Linked DNA regions of Homo sapiens: region 2 is linked to region 1. Evidence: fine-mapped expression QTL. A gene starts in region 1. The other region holds a variant in brackets. All regions are shown on one strand. Distances are between the middles of the regions.

Region 1 (8,784 bases):
AGTGTGTCTCAGCATTTCAGTGTCTTAAAATATTGTATCTGGGGCTGAGCATCGTGGCTCATATCCTTAGTATCAGCACTTTAAGAAGCCAAGGTGGGAGAATGGCCAGGAGTTCAAGACCAGCCTGGGCAACACAGTGAGACCCTGTCTCTACAAAAAAAGTTTTTAAAATAAAAAAATTAGCCATGTGTGGTGGTGCATGCCTTGACGTCATGGAGGTCACTTGAGCCCAGGAGGTCAAGGCTACAGTGAGCTATTATCATGCCACTGTACTCCAGCCTGGGCAACAGAGAAAAATCCTGTCTCTAAACATTACATATTTTATATATATATATAAAATATACATATGTGTGTGTATATATATATATATATATATATATATATATATATATATCACATCTGTAATACTGCAGGCATTTTTCTTCTACCCTTGAGTTGTATGAATTAAAATACTTCTTTATAGAAAATATAAATATTCCTAACCCTATTAACACACTCTTCTGTGTAACACACTCTTCCTAACACACTCTTGAAAGAGAAGGTAGACACGTTGAAACGCCTATTCGCACTCATGCTAAACCCACTATCTTCTGCATTCCCTTCTCTTATAAAACTCATTACACTTTTATAAAGTCCTTCTACAGCAAGGCTTTCCTTCCACACCACAGAGCAAGGATTACCATAGCCCATGAGACTCTCTGAACTGTAGATATAATTAGGCATCACATCCATTATAACGCCACGGACGTCATCATGTGCTACCAGCATCTGTTGACAGATCTCATACCCAGCATATCACTGAAATGGCAAGTGTGGAGAAGGCAGCCCACAATAGAAACAATGGTATTTTACCCTTGTCCGGTTCCAGCAGTTTGTCTCATGGGACATAAATAGAGGCCACTGCTCTGGCCACACTGAGCTCACAGTTCAATATTATTTTACTGACTTGAGCAGGGTCTATACCAAAAGTAGAAATAGAGAATCTTCTAGATCTCTCCTAATGTAGTTTTTGCCCCCCAAGCATGTACAACATTCAAACTATCTTAAAAAAAATTCTCACCTTAAACTTTCTAACATTATTTTGGACTGGGATCAGGAAGTATGTTATTTTTAAATAATCAACTTTACTTCAAGTGCTATGCAATTATAATAATACAGTCAACATAGGAATCCCAAACCTAAAAGAATTCGAAGCCATATATCCAAAAATACTGCAAATAAGTTAAAAGATTAAATATGGCAGAAGGGATGTCAATGTGGCCTCTGGAAACTGTCATTACCTCTATCCTGCTACTGTACTGTACTTAAAAAAAAAAAAGGCAACAGAAAGCACTGTGATTAGACCATCACTTTCAAAAATGATGGGCAGACTACCTGTCCAATTCCTTAGCTATTTTACAATTCCTCATAAGAAAGCAATTTTTAAAACAAAGACCCGGGAGTTATCTTTTTTTTTAATCCATGAAAAGTGCAGTAATCAAAATTTGGGGAAATTCTTTTAAAAAAAAACACTCACTGCTAAAAATTAAAGTCACTTTTTAACTTCGTGCTGATGGATGATGCATCAGCTGGTCCAGATGACACATTAGTAATCCTCATGCCTCGTACTTCCTTCACAATCAGTCCTTTAAACAATAGTAGACGGCTTGAAGTTTTGTTTTTTTCTATTTATTACTCCCATTTTCTAAGAAAGGTAGGGATGGTAAAAGCCTTAAGAAACTCGGGGAGAGACTGAAATGTAGCTAAATTAGAGCTTTAAAATAATAATAGTAAATGGTATTTTAGGAGAGAGGGTAGACAAGAGACATCCTGATATAAAAATAGTGCTTGGTTATTTGATAATCATCTCTCCTTCCAGCTAACGCTGTTTGCTGCGAGAGGAGTTTGGGATGTGTGTTCTCCACCATCATACCCCTATTCACCAAATACTATCGCACAATCAGCTACAGTACCCATTATACAGAGATTCCCATACACACTATGGTCACCACAGGCTATCCACCTAAAGCAGGTCCTTAGAAGGGAAATCTATCTTGCCCCACGCCCAGAAAAATAGGCGGAAAAAAGTTCAGAGCGTTTGGCTTTTGCCATAACCCCGTTATCTTAAGGTTGGGTTGGCAGGTCTCTGTTGTCATGTCTGACCCAACCAGGCTCCCTGCCTAGTCAAGTAAGAGGCGGGATTAAGCCTCCTGGTGAGCATTCCCTATTTATTCCAGCCAAGAGGATCAAGAGGAAACCTTGAAAAAGTGGAATGTTCCACTGGGCCCCCAGAGAACGCCAATCAAAATGGGGAGGGAGCTTTTAGAAGCTGGCTGACTCCTTCGTCCCTGTGTGCTTACCTCAATGAATTATAAATAGAGTGTGAAATAATTGTCACTATCGGTAAATGTCTAGTGTTCATACAACATCCCTCTCCAAGGAACCCAAAAGATTGAATAAATGACTTTCCATGACTCTAGGGGCAGCCCGGTGGAAATTGCAATGAAGCTGATGTTCTTTTGCTTCTTTCAATGGGGAAGAGAGAGGCTGGGGTAAATGGACACAAGCGGGCCAGGAGAGTATAACTCGGGGGCCAAGGTCACAGACTCAAGGGGTCAGGAGCAGACCAGAGACCCCTTCAGATCTGGTCTAACGCGGGTTGGTGTGAGGAACAGAACCACATCTGTACCTCCGATGCTGCTAGCGCGCGCGCACACACACGACGCCCAGTGTCCTGCCTGTCCCCGGACGTGTCCTCTTTCCTAAGGGGCCCCCGGGGCTGCGAGGGCACAGGACAGCACAGCACCTCCACAAAGCGCCCTCTCGCCAGTCGCCAGGCCACGCGGCCACGCGCACGGGAGCCCCGCGGGGGACCCGGCCCCACCACGCGCGGGCGGCCCGCGGGCCCCTGCTGACCTTCCTCTGCTGCTTCTCCCAGGCTGGGTCCAGGAGCAGGTCGCGGTCCCACTCCTCCTCCTGGATCATGTACTCATCCTCGTCGTACACGTAGTTGTACTGCACGCCGGGCTCTATCTGGTTCATGGCGCTCGGTTGGCCGGGGCTGCGGCGGGGCGCGAGGGGCTCGGACGCACGGGCTGACTGGCAAACGGACCCACGGAGGCGGCGGGCGGCGGGCGGCGGGCGCGGGGTGACCTTCGCGCGGCTCCTCTCGGGGCGACACGCCTGGGCGCTGGGTCTCGGGCGAAGCACCAGCTCCGGCTGCGAGCAGCTGCCGCGCGGCTTAATAGCCGCGCCGCCCGTCACGTGGCCGCCCGGCCACGCCCCCGCCGCCACCGCCCCCGGCCCCGCCCGTCGGGCCCCAGCCGCCCCGCCCCGAGCACGTGCGGGCGGACAAGGGCGCCGGGCCCCTCCACTGTCTCCCCTGCAGCCGCCGCCCAGAGGCCGCCTGCACGCCTTCCGCCGAGGCCTCCGGGAACGTGAGGGGAGCGGCCGGCCCCGAGCAGAGCCACGCCTGCCACCCACGCTCTGAGAGCGGCTGGTTAGCGGCGCGGGGTCCGTCGGTGTCCCGGGTGGGTGATCGCGAGCCAGGGGAGGGACACCTAAGAGGCTGGGTCCCTGACCACCCCAACACAGCCAAGTTTTCCAAATATCATTTGGATATTCGCGTTTTCCATATATTCCCACATATTCATTGGAGACCCCTCTTCTCTCTCTCTCATCTCTCTCTCGTGCCTCTCTTTCCGCTCATCGGTCCCTCTCTCTTGTGTCTGTCTCTCGTCTGTCTCTCTCTCATCTCTGTCCCTCTTTCTCCAGTGTCTCTCTCTCATAGATCTCTCTCATATCTCTCTCTCATCTCTGTCTCTCCTGTGTCTCTCTCACATGTCTCTCTCTCCTCTCATCTCTCTCTCTCTCTCGTGTCTCACTGTCTCTCATCTGTCTCTCGTGTCTCTCTCCTCTCCTCTTCTCTCCTCTGTCTCTCTCTCCCGTGTCTCTCTCTCTCTCGTCTCTCTCTCTCTGTCGTGTCTCTCTTTCTCTCTCTCATCTGTCTCTCTCTCCTGTGTCTCTCATACCTCTCTCATCTCTGTCTCTCTCTTCTCTCTCTCTGTTTCTCTTCCTCCCTCTCACACACACACACACATACATACATACAGGCCCCTAAGGAGTAAAGTTTAAAAGCTACAGAACCCCCCTCTTCTTTCTCTCCTCCTCACCCTCACCTGGGGAAATCAAGGCACAGGATTTGGATCCATCCTATTAAAATGTTAGGAACCAAACCAAAGGCAGGAAGTGTCAGCTCTCACCTACCGGGCATAAATTTAAGAGAGCTGACAATGAAGGGCAAGCGGCCAGCTTCGTGTTATATTTCCATGTCGCCCTGTGGGTTGCACTTAACGCCTTTTCATCCCCCTAGTGCTGGCTAGCTGTTCCCTATCAGTTATGCTGCCGCAGGAAGCAAAATGAGGACCCTTGGGACAAGTAGGCTGAAATTTTTAAATCAAATATGTATTAAGCAACTACTGTAAACCAGAGGTTGCCTTAGGCACCAGACGAGCTGATGGGATGCCTGCCTGCAATTCAGTTTATATCTCAATTGAATAAACGTTGCCCACAGATGCTACAGAATTTTTTGTGATTCAGGGCTACTAATTTGTGGACATGTTTCAAGTTGAGTTTGTCTGGATTTATCATTGTTCCTTAGAATTTTTACATCACTCACCGTTACTGTTTGGGGCTTTATGCAGAAAGATAACAATTAGCAAACAGGTTGCATTAACTTTGTTTTGTTTTGTTTTGTTTTGAGATGGAGCTTCACTCTTGTTGCCCAGGCTGGAGTGCAAGAGCACGATCTCGGCTCACCGCAACGTCCACCTCTCCGGTTCAAGCGATTCTCCTGCCTCAGCCTCCGGAGTAGCTGGGATTACAGGCATGTGCCACCACACCCGGCTAATTTTGTATTTTTAGTAGAGACGGGGTTTTTCCATGTTGGTTAGGCTGGTCTCGAACTCCCAACCTCAGGTGATCCACCTGCCTCAGCCTTCAAAAGTGGGGATTACAGGTGTGAGCCACCACGCCCCGCCACATTAACATTTTCAAAAACATTCTCACTAGGATGTAAATTCCTCAAACGCAGGGATTTTGTCTCGTCCACAGTTGTAGACCCCAGCAACTACAGGCGTGTCCACCGCACAGTGGTGCTCATTTGTTGAGAGAAGTAGTATCCCTGGAAATAGTGACTGAGCTAATTTACTTGGATTTAAATTTAAAATTTAGAGTTTATATTTTGGATTAAAATCATACTCTTGAAACAAGTGGATCAATAAATTTTACCTATTAGAAACTGGGCCGGGCACAGTGGCTCAGGCCTGTAATCCCAACACTTTGGGAGGCCGAGGTGGGTAGATCACCTGAGGTTGGGAGTTCAAGACCAGCCTGGCCAACATGATGAAACCCCATCTCTACTAAAAAAAATAAAAATAAAAAAATTAGCTGGCTGTGGTGGCATGCACCTGTAATCCCAGCTACTCAGGAGGCTGAGGCAGGAGAATCGCTTGAACTCAGGAGGTGGAGGTTGCAGTGAGCAGAAATTGCGCCACTGTACTCCAGCCTGGGCGACAAGAGCAAAATTCCATCTCAAAAAAAAATAAAAAAAGAAAGAAAGAAAAGAAAAGAAATTGGATGTACAATTACAAAAAGTGCTACATCGTTCAACTTAGTTTTCAAAAATTAACGTGGGGACTTCATGAGATGGAAAAAACAGCGCCAGATTTACCATCCTGCCTGAAACAACTAAAGCCTGGGGAAAAAAACACATAAAACAATGGTTTTCAAGACATTAGTCATCAGGCAAAGAGGGACAATGAACCCTCAGAGGCAGAAAATAAATGATGTGAGTACTGCAATTGCCCCAGCTTACAGTCTGGAGAAAACTTTCAAGATGCAATGCAACAAAGAGGTACCCAGGCACAGCTTACTGGTCTCCATAAACTGAGAGTTCAGAGAGACCAAACATTAGAATTTGCAAGGCCAATTACAGCAGAAAATGGAGCTGCAAAGAGAGAGAATCCTGGAGATTTGCTGTTCCCTGGAATCTGATCAGTGAATACATGAGAGGAAACTGCCTGAGGCCAAGGAAAGAAGGTCCCGAAAGGAATAGAAGGAATGATTCTTAAATTCATAACGGGCCAGGAATAGTTCCTGTTTCCATCAGCCAGGGTGGAAAACCTTATAATCCACAAAGCATCAGAGTACTCCAACCTGGAGGGAAATTAGCTCCTGATGAAATATTGTACTTGTCCTGCCTGCAAAACCTGAAAAGCATGACCTGAAAATCGTAATTTCCAAGTAACTTAACCATGTCCCAGATCAAAGCTCAAACATATCTATAGGAATATGAAAACATTCAACACTCAAATTTTACCCAAAGGTAAAATTTGCAATTTCTGCCACCTGTGAAATATTACCAAATTTTTCACAGGTGTGCAAAGAAGCAGGCACATATGATCCATAATGAGAACAATCCATCAATCAAAACTGACCTAGAATTGACACAGATGATAGAATTAGTAGAAAGGAACATTAAAAGAGTGATTATTGCTATATTCCATATATTTAAGAAGCTAGAGGAAAGATTGAACCTGACAAGTAGAGACAGAGGAGATATGAAAAATTTAATATCTAGAGATGAAAACTACATCTGAAATTTTAAAATACACTAAACGCGTTTGCCTATAGATACTGCATTAGAAAAGATGAGTGAACTTGAAGGCATAGCAGTAGAAAAAAATCCAGTATGAAACACACAGAGAGAAAACAGGTTTAAGAAATGAGCACGGCCAGGCGCAGTGGCTCACGCCTGTAATCCCAGCACTTTGAGAGGCCAAGGTGGGCGGATCACCTGAAGGCAGGAGTTCAAGACCAGCCTGGCCAACAGGGTGAAACCCCGTCTCTACTAAAAATACAAAAATAGCCGGGCACGGTGGTGGGCACCTGTAATCCCAGCTACTCGGGAGGCTGAGGCAGGAGAATCGCTTGAACCGGGAGGTGGAGGTTGCAGTGAGCCGAGATCGCACCACTGCACTGCAATCTGGGCAACAAAGTGAGACTCCGTCTCAAAAAAAATAAAATAAAATAAGAAATGACCAGAGGATCTGTGAGCTGTGAGAAGCCTTCATGCAGCTTAGTATCCAAGTAACTGGAGTCTCTGAAGTGGGAGAACAGGAAAAAAAAAAAAAGTACTTTAAGAAGTAACAGACAAAGTCAAGAAGTTAGTAAGGGGACTTCCACTTGTGGCGAAGGTGGAGTATGGGGAACTGGGATAATTCTTCCTGAAACAACCACTGCCTTCCACCCGCAGGACTGGAAAAAACTGATCATTCACAGAGCACTGAGTAGAATACTTAGGAAGGTCTTGCCTCAGCAGTGCCGAATGATTAGTCCTAAATAGAGCACTGCTCTAAGCTGGTTAACCAAATCATAAAAACAAGACCCAAAAGATTAAAACCATTTCCAAGTAACTGCATCACAAAACAAAGCTCAAGAATATTTATAGGCATACAAAAATATCCAGCACCCAACAAGGTAAAACATCACAAAACCTGACATTCAATACAAGATTACCAGGCATGGCGGGGCGTGGTAGCTCACACCTGTAATCCCAGCATTTTGGGGGGCTGAGGCGGGTGGATCACCTGAGGTCAGGAGTTTGAGACCAGCCTGACCAACAAGGTGAAACCCCGTCTCTACAAAAATACAAAAATTAGCCGGGTGTGGTGGTGGGTGCCTGTAATCCCAGCTACTTGGGAGGACGAGGCAGGAGAATCACTTGAACCCAGGAGGCAGAGGCTACAGTGAGCTAAGATCACGCCCCTGCACTCCAGCCTGGGTGATACAGTGAGACTCTGTCTCAAAAAATAAAAAAATTAAAGTTAAAAGATTACCAGACATACCAAGAGACGGAAAACACACCCATAATAATGAGAATATAAATCAATTGAAGCTGACTTAGGACTAACAGATGTTAAAGTTAGCAGATAAGGACATTAAAACAGTTTCTATGACTGTATTCTGTATGTTCAAAAACTTAAATACAGATATGAAAGATACGTTTTAAAAGACTCAAATAAAACTTCCAGAGATGAAAACTAAAATGTCTGAGAAGTAGAATACACTGAATGGCATTAAGGGAAGATTAGACAGTGGAGAAGAGATTAGTGAACTTTGAAAGCATAGCAATAGAAACAACCCAAAATGAAACACAGAAAGAAAAAATAATCCAAAAGAATGAAAAGAGCTTCAGTGAGTTTGCTGAAAGAACAATTCACCATCTGTCCTGAATATGTCTGCACATTCTTGCTGGTCTGCCAGAAATGATAGGACCCTGACAGCTCTTTACCCCGCCCATTTCTCAGGGTTGTGTTTGCAATGTGCAGCCTTGACAAATGCAGTAAGATCTACTCCCAAGCAAAAATGTCTTGCTTTTGGTTGCTATAAAAGTTCCTGCGGCACAAGCTCAGTGTTCCTCTTCTATAACGAGACTCACTGTGTGTGCAGGCTTTCATTATGAGCCCTTTGCTGTCACCTCAATGGGACTTGGAGGTTATGGGGAACCAGCATGAAAATCAAGACAGGTCATTTTCAGGGCTGTAAAACAACTCTCAATAAATTTAAAAAATTCAATCATAAAGTGAGTGTTCTCAGATAACAATGGAATTAAGTTAGTAGTCAGAAAGATCTCTGAAAATTCCTTGGATACCTGAAATTCAATAACACATTTTTAGTTAACCCATGGATCAAAGAAAAAAATTTTAAAGAATTTTAGAAAGTGATTTTTAACTACATGAAAAT
Region 2 (8,000 bases), 33 kb before region 1:
GCTGGTCTCGAACTGCTGACCTCATGATCCACTCACCTTGGCCTCCCAAAGTGCTGGGGTTACAGGCGTGAGCCACCGCGCCCGGCCTAATCTCTCATTTTCTTTCTTGGAAGAGGCCCATCATTTTGCTGAAGGAAACTCACTCCTCAAAGAATTGTTTCTTTGATTCTAATAACAATGAATTTTTCAACATACCACACATCATTAAAACAAATAAAGATGATTTTTCTGTAGACTTACAGAAGTTAAATGAGGTTGTTAAACAATTACTCCATGAAACTAAAACAAATAAAAATATAAATTAGCAAACTGACAGTATCTACTGTGTTGGACACTGCAGAACCATCTGCTTGAAGAGATCTAGTAGGTACTTTCCTAATAAAATTATAATTTTTTAATGTTTAATTTCTTAGTCTTGTGAAGAGCAGATTAATATAGCCTTTTATCGCAAAATTTTACAAAATATTGTGATTTAGCTATCTTGCTTTGGGCATGTTAATAACAATTTTGGGGAAAACTCTAATGGATAATACCATTCATACCTACACTTGAAATATAATTAAGTTTGAATTCATATTATCACTAATTTAAAATTTGTAACCAATCAGAAACAACTTGAGGTCAACTTCACCTCTGTAATATTTGTGGAAAAAGGATTTGCTAGACCAGCAACAGTGTGACCAAGATTTCTAAAAGTAGTATTTATTTAAAGTGGGTTCAACAGTTTAAATATTTAAATTTAGAAGTATATAAAAACTGATAAAATTATTACAACTTACAATTTTTAAATAAAGCAAGAATTTTAGGAAGCCTCTTGTTTCTTTCATTAGCATAAAGGAAGGTACTGTAATAGAACTATATTGTACAAAAGTTTTCAAAGTCAGACTATGTATTAATTCAAGCTGGCTGTCATTCCTGAGCTTGAATTGTTTTAATGCCATTAGATTTTAGTTTGACTTTTAGATGACATAAGTCGGTCTCCGGTGCCAGAAGGGAATAATTGAAGTGAGTTTGAAGGTCCATAAGGGCAAGTACTGCAGGCTTCATGTCAGCTGGTACAAGTAGGCAAAGTGTTGTTTCTTAATGTTTGTTGGTTGATGAGTACCTAAAATCACTTAAAAAGACCAGAGTCTCATGCCTGTAATCCCAGCACTTTGGGAGGCTGAGGCGGGCGGATCACGAGCTCAGGAGATCGAGACCATCCTGGCTAACACAGTGAAACCCCGTCTCTACTAAAAATATGAAAAATTAGCCAGCATGGTGGTGGGCGCCTGTAGTCCCAGCTACTCGTGAGGCTGAGGCAGGAGAATGGCGTGGACCCAGGAGGCAGAGCTTGCAGTGAGCCAAGATCGCGCCACTGAACTCCAGCCTGGGTGCCAGAGTGAGACTCCGTCTCAAAAAAAAAAAAAAAAAAAAAAACAAAAAACAAAAACCAGAGTCAGAGGCTACTGTGGCCTGGGCAGAATTATAAATAACGTCTCCACCCCTTACCACTCAGGTACCTGGTTACCTACTGGATTACAGAGTCAGAAGGGGCCAAATAGTTGGACAATGCAGCAGCCCTGAAACACATTCTGCAGTTATACACTTTGTGATTTGAGGGCCAAACAGGCAAAGTTCCAATTTTAAGAATGCCAATTTGACACTTTTCAACAGTGCTGAATTCATCAAAATATTTGGGAGTGTAGTTGGTGTAAAAGACTAAAGATTTTTATCTTCAGTGGCAGTGTCAAGGATTAAGATTCTATGATAATGATGAAACAGTAGTTAGGCCAAAAGATACAGTGACAATAGAGGTCTTGTTTAAAAAGAAAAAGAAGAAAAAAGAAAAAGAGAGGGAGAGAGATAGGGAGGAAGAAAGTTAAGGAAATAACAAACATGGGTTGCAACAGATTCTTTTTTTATACCAGGGGGAAAGAAAGTGTTTCAGTTGTAAGACTAAAGAACTCTGCCATAGCTGTAAATTTACTAGTATAATAAGCAATCAAGAAGCTCAATAAATGCTCATTTTAAAAAGCGACTTCTGTTCTGAACATGTGCTCATCTTTTGCAAACCGATTCCACCCCCATGAATGAAACAGTGCTGCCGAGGTCTTTTCCTATACACATACAAAATTTATAAGAACCCACTTACATGTCTCTCATTCAATCATGTAAGTGACTGTTGGACTTTAAAACATCTTGCTCAAATTTTAATTCACAAGCTCAATTTACAGATTATACAATTAGACTTTTAACCATGTCTTTTACCTTCAACCGAAATATCCTGAATAGCAAAGCGAAGGATGATGGTCCAGATCATACCCAGGGTCATTTTCACGTTGCCATCAACAATTTCTGCAGGTAAGAAAACAACAAATTAATGTAAAGATAACATAGTCTGTACGTAACTTTTTTCCTATATATAAATGTTGACTTCAGAGCTATTGGAAAATGTGCATATGGATGGAAAGACCAGTTTATGTTTTTATAAGCACCGCAGTATGTCTGGTTATAAATACAGTATTCATAACCAAATGTCTCTAGTTTAAATAAATTCTAAGTTAATAATAAGCACAAATCTTGCATATGTATTATCAGTGAAAACCACCCGGGAGTTTCCAAAGTTTTAAGATGTAATAGCTAAGGTTTTTTTTTTTTTTTGAGATGGAGTCTCACTCTGTCGCCCAGGCCGCAGTGCAGTGACACAACCGTGGCTCACTGCAACCTCCGCCTCCTGGGATCAAGCAATTCTCCTGCCTCAACCTCCTGAGTAGCTGGGACTACAAGGACTACAGGCATGCGCCACCACACCCAGCTAATTTTTTGTAAATTTAGTAGAGATGGGGTTTCACCACGTTGGCCAGGCTGGTCTTGAACTCCTCACCTCAGGTGATCTACCCGCCTCAGCCTCTCAAAGTGCTGGGATGAGCATGAGCCACTGTGCCCAGCCATGAGCTAAAGTTTTAAATAATCAAATAAAGAGAACACAGTCTCATCTTTACCCTGACCCTTCTTACGGCATTCCGCAGCTGACAAGTAGCAGGACTCAGTTGTGCATACAGAGATATGGGTGGAAATCTCAGCTCCCGCTGACCTCACCAAATTCCCAGTCTCCCATAGAGAACAAAGAGGCCACTTCCTTCCTATTAGTTAGTTCTTATTAAGAGTCATTGGGATGTGTAAGTTCTTTCTCAGTCCTTTAAGTCTTCTGAAGATGACAGCATTATATTTAATTCTATGCTTTACAAAGAACCTAGAGCTTGGTCTCCCACTCATGGTACCATTTGTTCTTATCTTTGTGCACCGAGCGCCCTAAGAGAGAGCCTGATACAAGGCAGGTACAGTAAATGGTGAAAGGGAGGGAAGAAGGGGAGAATTCAAGTCGCAGCCCACACCTACGCTATTAGGTCAGTGTGGCAGACAGGACCACCCACCACACCTCTCACCTTCAGCGCCAATGGACACCAGTTTCACCCCTTTGCTGGCTATGTAATCCAAAGCTTTGTTGACATTAGCAATTTTGTGGAACCGCATTTTTCCCCGGTCAGGTTTGGGCAGCCTTTCCCCTGTTGGATGAAAAGAGAATCATGCAGACATAGAGACAGTGACCTCTTGATGCGGAATCAAGATGCCAAAACTAAGCATCCATCTTTTCCTTAAAAAGAGAAGGTTACATGACTATTTCTGATGTGTGCCTGGTCTCTCTAAATCACAGCAATGAGGGAACACTAACCCAGAAACTTTCAGAATCAAATGGACCAGCAGGGAGCCATACTATGAAGGACACATGCTTTTCAGATCTGCAGGGAGAGTCTGGTTTGGCCCATGATCCAACTTACAAATGAGTAAAAAGAGAAGCTGGTTAGAGTCCCTGGAGTATTCAGAGTTGCTGGCTAACGGTTAGAGGAAGTCAGGATGGCCAGTTAAAATCACAGAGGTGGCTGCCAGGGCTCGTTCGACACCTGATTATGAAGACAGATGGATCAGGGCAGATCTGCCATAATCCTTCCCAGTCACACTTCTCCAAAGGTGATCCATTCTCTAGTCCAAAGTCTAAATCAGCCAACTGAAATTCAGGACAAATCATAGCCCCACTGGGATTTTAGCTTATATGTTCAGAGTTCTGCCAACATGTACAGTAGATTTTTGGATACAAGATGATTTCTGGAATACACTCTAGCTGGACGAAGAGTAGAAAGGGCAGCATGGAGGGAGTCGTGTGAAGTCATTTTTTCTTCTCTTATTTTGTTTCAAGCTTGGTGGTATAAACATTATTTTAATAAGTGATTTTTAAAGAGAATTCACTCCTTTTTTTAGAACGGAAAAATAACTCCAGGCAGATTGTTCTTTGGAAAG[G/A]TTTTCTTTGGCAATAATACCATGTTCTTGCCCAGCCAAGTTCAAAGCGAACTTCTGATGTAGTCATCTTTAAATAGATGCTCACCTACTGATAACACATGAAAGCATAGGATGGGATATATAACACCAACCTGAGATGACTTCCAAAAGCAGCATGAGCTTAAGGCCATTCCTGAAGTCTTCCTCGATGTTCTCAATCTGGGTGCCGGCTTTCCTTAGGTGGGAGTTACACCAGGCAGTGAAGGTCTGCAAAGAAAACCAAACACGGTTTAGCACAGGTCCATCGGATTTCAGATCCCTTCCTCACAGACGACACTTGACACCTTACACGTTCTTGGGAATCTACAAGGCTGGGGCTGCTTGGGCTTCTAGAGGATGCAGAATTTGATGGAAAGAAGAACTGGAAACCCAAAAGAACGATTTTAGTAAATTTTCCACTTTAGAGATAAAGACTCTCTTATTGGATATTCCAACCTGAAGAATTTTTGCCTTCCATTTAAAAAGACACCACATTTATACCTGTATCTTCACCTTTTGAAACCCTTTTACTTTGTAGAAAAGATAGATTAAATTAAGATGTGCTTATTTCTTGCTCACAAATATGCAAAATATGCTTGCTTGCAGCAGAATAGATGAATAAATAACAGTGTTTTGTTTTGTTTTGGAGACAGGGTCATCCAGCTCTGTCACCCAGGCTGGAGAACAGTGGTGTGATCATGGCTCACTGCAGCCTCAACCTCCCAGGCTCAACTGATCCTCCTGCCTCAGCCCCCTAAGTAGCTGGGACTATAGGCATGCACGACCACACCTAGCTAATTTTTTTTTAGAGATGGGGTCTTGCTATGTTGCCCAGGCTGGTCTCAAACTCCTAGACTCAAGCAATCCTCTTGCCTCAGCCTCCCAAAGTGCTGGGATTACAGGCATGAGCCACCATGCCCAGTCTAAATAATGTTTGAAGAATGTTCAAAGGCCAGGTGTGATGACTCACACCTGTAATCCCAGCACTTTGGGAGGCTGAGGCAGGGCAGATCACTTGAGGTCAGGAGTTCGAGACCAGCCTGACCAACATGGTAAAACCCCGTCTCTACTAAAAATACAAAAATTAGCTGGGTGTGGTAACGTGTGCCTGTAGTCCCAGCTACTCAAGAGGCTCAGGCAGGGAAGTAGCTTGAAACCAGGAGGCGGAGGTTGCAGCAAGCCAAGATCATACTACTGCACTCCAGTCTGGGTGACAGAGTGAGACTCTGTCTCAAAAAAAAAAAAAAAAATGTTCAAAATGTGTTGCTTTAGAGGAGAGGGTGGGTGATATTGTGTAGCAGAAAGAAGAGAGAAGGGACCCATAACCAGTGATAACCTAGAACTAGTTTATCTCGGGTGAACAACAGTTTTAAGCTACTAATTAAATCAATTAAACAAATTTGCAGTATAGTCTATCATTGAAAAAATAATAACAATAACCTCCTACAAGCATATTCCAAGCACTGGACTACATCCTGGATCTCAAAGGTGACTATATTCAACCCTGCCTTTGGAAGGGATCACAGTCCAGTCATATTAACAAATTACTAGGGCAAATCTTCGGCTGAAAATGGACCATATATTAAGTGACATCTAAAGTTATTCTGTTTATTTTTCCAGCTTCTTTTAACTTGGCTTCCACTTGTGCCCTATTTCCTGCCAAAACCAGATTAGAAATGTTTCTGGCAGCTGCTGGCTAAGCATGCAAAATGTCCCCTCATCCCACAACAGCTGCTGGGCTTGAGAACAAAGTGCCTGGCACATCAAACTGGGGAGTAGGGGACACACAAACAGGGTTTGTGTTCAAGATGAAAACTTCAACCTATCAAAAACAGGCTGCTTCTAAGTCAGACTACAGAAAGACAAAGTGTCCATAAAAATGATTTTCCTGGGTGATAAAGAGGATTTTCAAATCTGACTAATAGTTTCTCCTTTCAAGAAGGAGGTGACAGCATTTAATTCAAGGACCAAAAAAAAAAAAAAAAAGAAGAAGAAGGGATTTTTTGGATTTACAGTAATAAATTTTACCCTGAGAGCCTAAACTAACAATTATGTCTAAGCTTTAGTCAGGTCTAAACAGAAAAGATACTCTAAGCCATCCACTTTATTTATTTTTATTTTTTATTTTTATTTTTTGAGACGGAGTCTTGCTTCCAGGCTGGAGTGCAGTGGCATGATCTCAGCTCACCGCAATCTCCGCCTCCCGAGTTCAAGTGATTCTCCCGCCTCAACCACCCTAGTAGCTAGGAATACAGGTGCCTGCCACCACACCTAGCTGATTTTTGTATTTTTAGTAGAGACGGGGTTTTGCCATGTTGGCCAGACTGGTCTTAAACTCCTGACTTCAGGTGATCCATCTGCCTCGGCCTCTCAAAGTGCTGGGATTACAGGCATGAGCCACCACACTCGGTCTTAAGCCATATACTTTAGATCTATACCCAATCAGTGTGGTAGCTCCTAGCCAGAAGTAGCCACTTAAACTTAGACTAATTAAAATAAAATTTAAAAATTAGCTCCTCAGTTGCACAAGTCATGTTTTAAGTGATCAAAAGCCACATATGGCTAGTAGTATTGGATGGTGCAAATATACAACATTCCTATCATCACAGAAAATTCTACTGGACAACACTATAGATAATTAAGTTTTGTTTTTTGAAGGTAAGATTATGATAAGAATTCATTACTTATTTTTTAACATATTAATTTTATGTATTTATTTTTTGAATGAGTAATAGGTTTCTTTGGTATAAAACTTCAAGTGGTAACAGGGTGGGGGGAGGGGGGAGGGATAGGATTAGGAGAGATACCTAATGTTAAATGACGAGTTAATAGGTGCAGCACACCAACATGGCACATGTATACATATGTAACAAACCTACACGTTGTGCACATGTACCCTAAACCTTAAAGTAGAATAAAAAAAAAAAAAAGGAAAAAGAAATTCAAGTGGTACGAAAGGGTTCAAAGAAAAATCCATCCTCTCACCTTTGTTCCTTGGCTACCCAATGCCCTACCCCATAAGGAATGAAGCTATCAGTCTCTTGCATATCCCTTCAGTGGTATCTGTGTATACATAAACACACAGTGAGGAATGAAGCTATCAGTCTCTTGCATATCCCTTCAGTGGTATCTGTGTATACATAAACACACAGTGAGGAATGAAGCTATCAGTCTCTTGCATATCCCTTCAGTGGTATCTGTGTATACATAAACACACAGTGAGGAATGAAGCTATCAGTCTCTTGCATATCCCTTCAGTGGTATCTGTGTATACATAAACACACAGTGAGGAATGAAGCTATCAGTCTCTTGCATATCCCTTCAGTGGTATCTGTGTATACATAAACACACAGTGAGGAATGAAGCTATCAGTCTCTTGCATATCCCTTCAGTGGTATCTGTGTATACATAAACACACAGTGAGGAATGAAGCTATCAGTCTCTTGCATATCCCTTCAGTGGTATCTGTGTATACATAAACACACAGTGAGGAATGAAGCTATCAGTCTCTTGCATATCCCTTCAGTGGTATCTGTGTATACATAAACACACAGTGAGGAATGAAGCTATCAGTCTCTTGCATATCCCTTCAGTGGTATCTGTGTATACATAAACACACAGTGAGGAATGAAGCTATCAGTCTC

Evidence for each region. PIP is the estimated chance that this variant, and not a neighbour inherited with it, causes the effect.
Region 2: its variant is the best candidate, but not a certain one, in a credible set for the expression of ACTN2 in lung (TOPMed, PIP 0.72).

What each region holds. Positions count from the first base shown.
Region 1 is chr1:236,680,911-236,689,694 of GRCh38, reverse strand. ACTN2 (actinin alpha 2) reads right to left here and starts at 3,196. Exons shown (of 21, transcript NM_001103.4): 1 at 2,896-3,196. The coding sequence starts at 3,021. RefSeq lists an enhancer at 1-1,612 and a silencer at 3,251-3,340.
Region 2 is chr1:236,714,442-236,722,441 of GRCh38, reverse strand. ACTN2 (actinin alpha 2) reads right to left here. Exons shown (of 21, transcript NM_001103.4): 2 at 4,470-4,584; 3 at 3,429-3,548; 4 at 2,251-2,337. Among named protein-coding and RNA genes, the nearest start is that of ACTN2, 32 kb to the right of the region's middle. The variant G/A (reference allele first, on the strand shown) is at 4,339.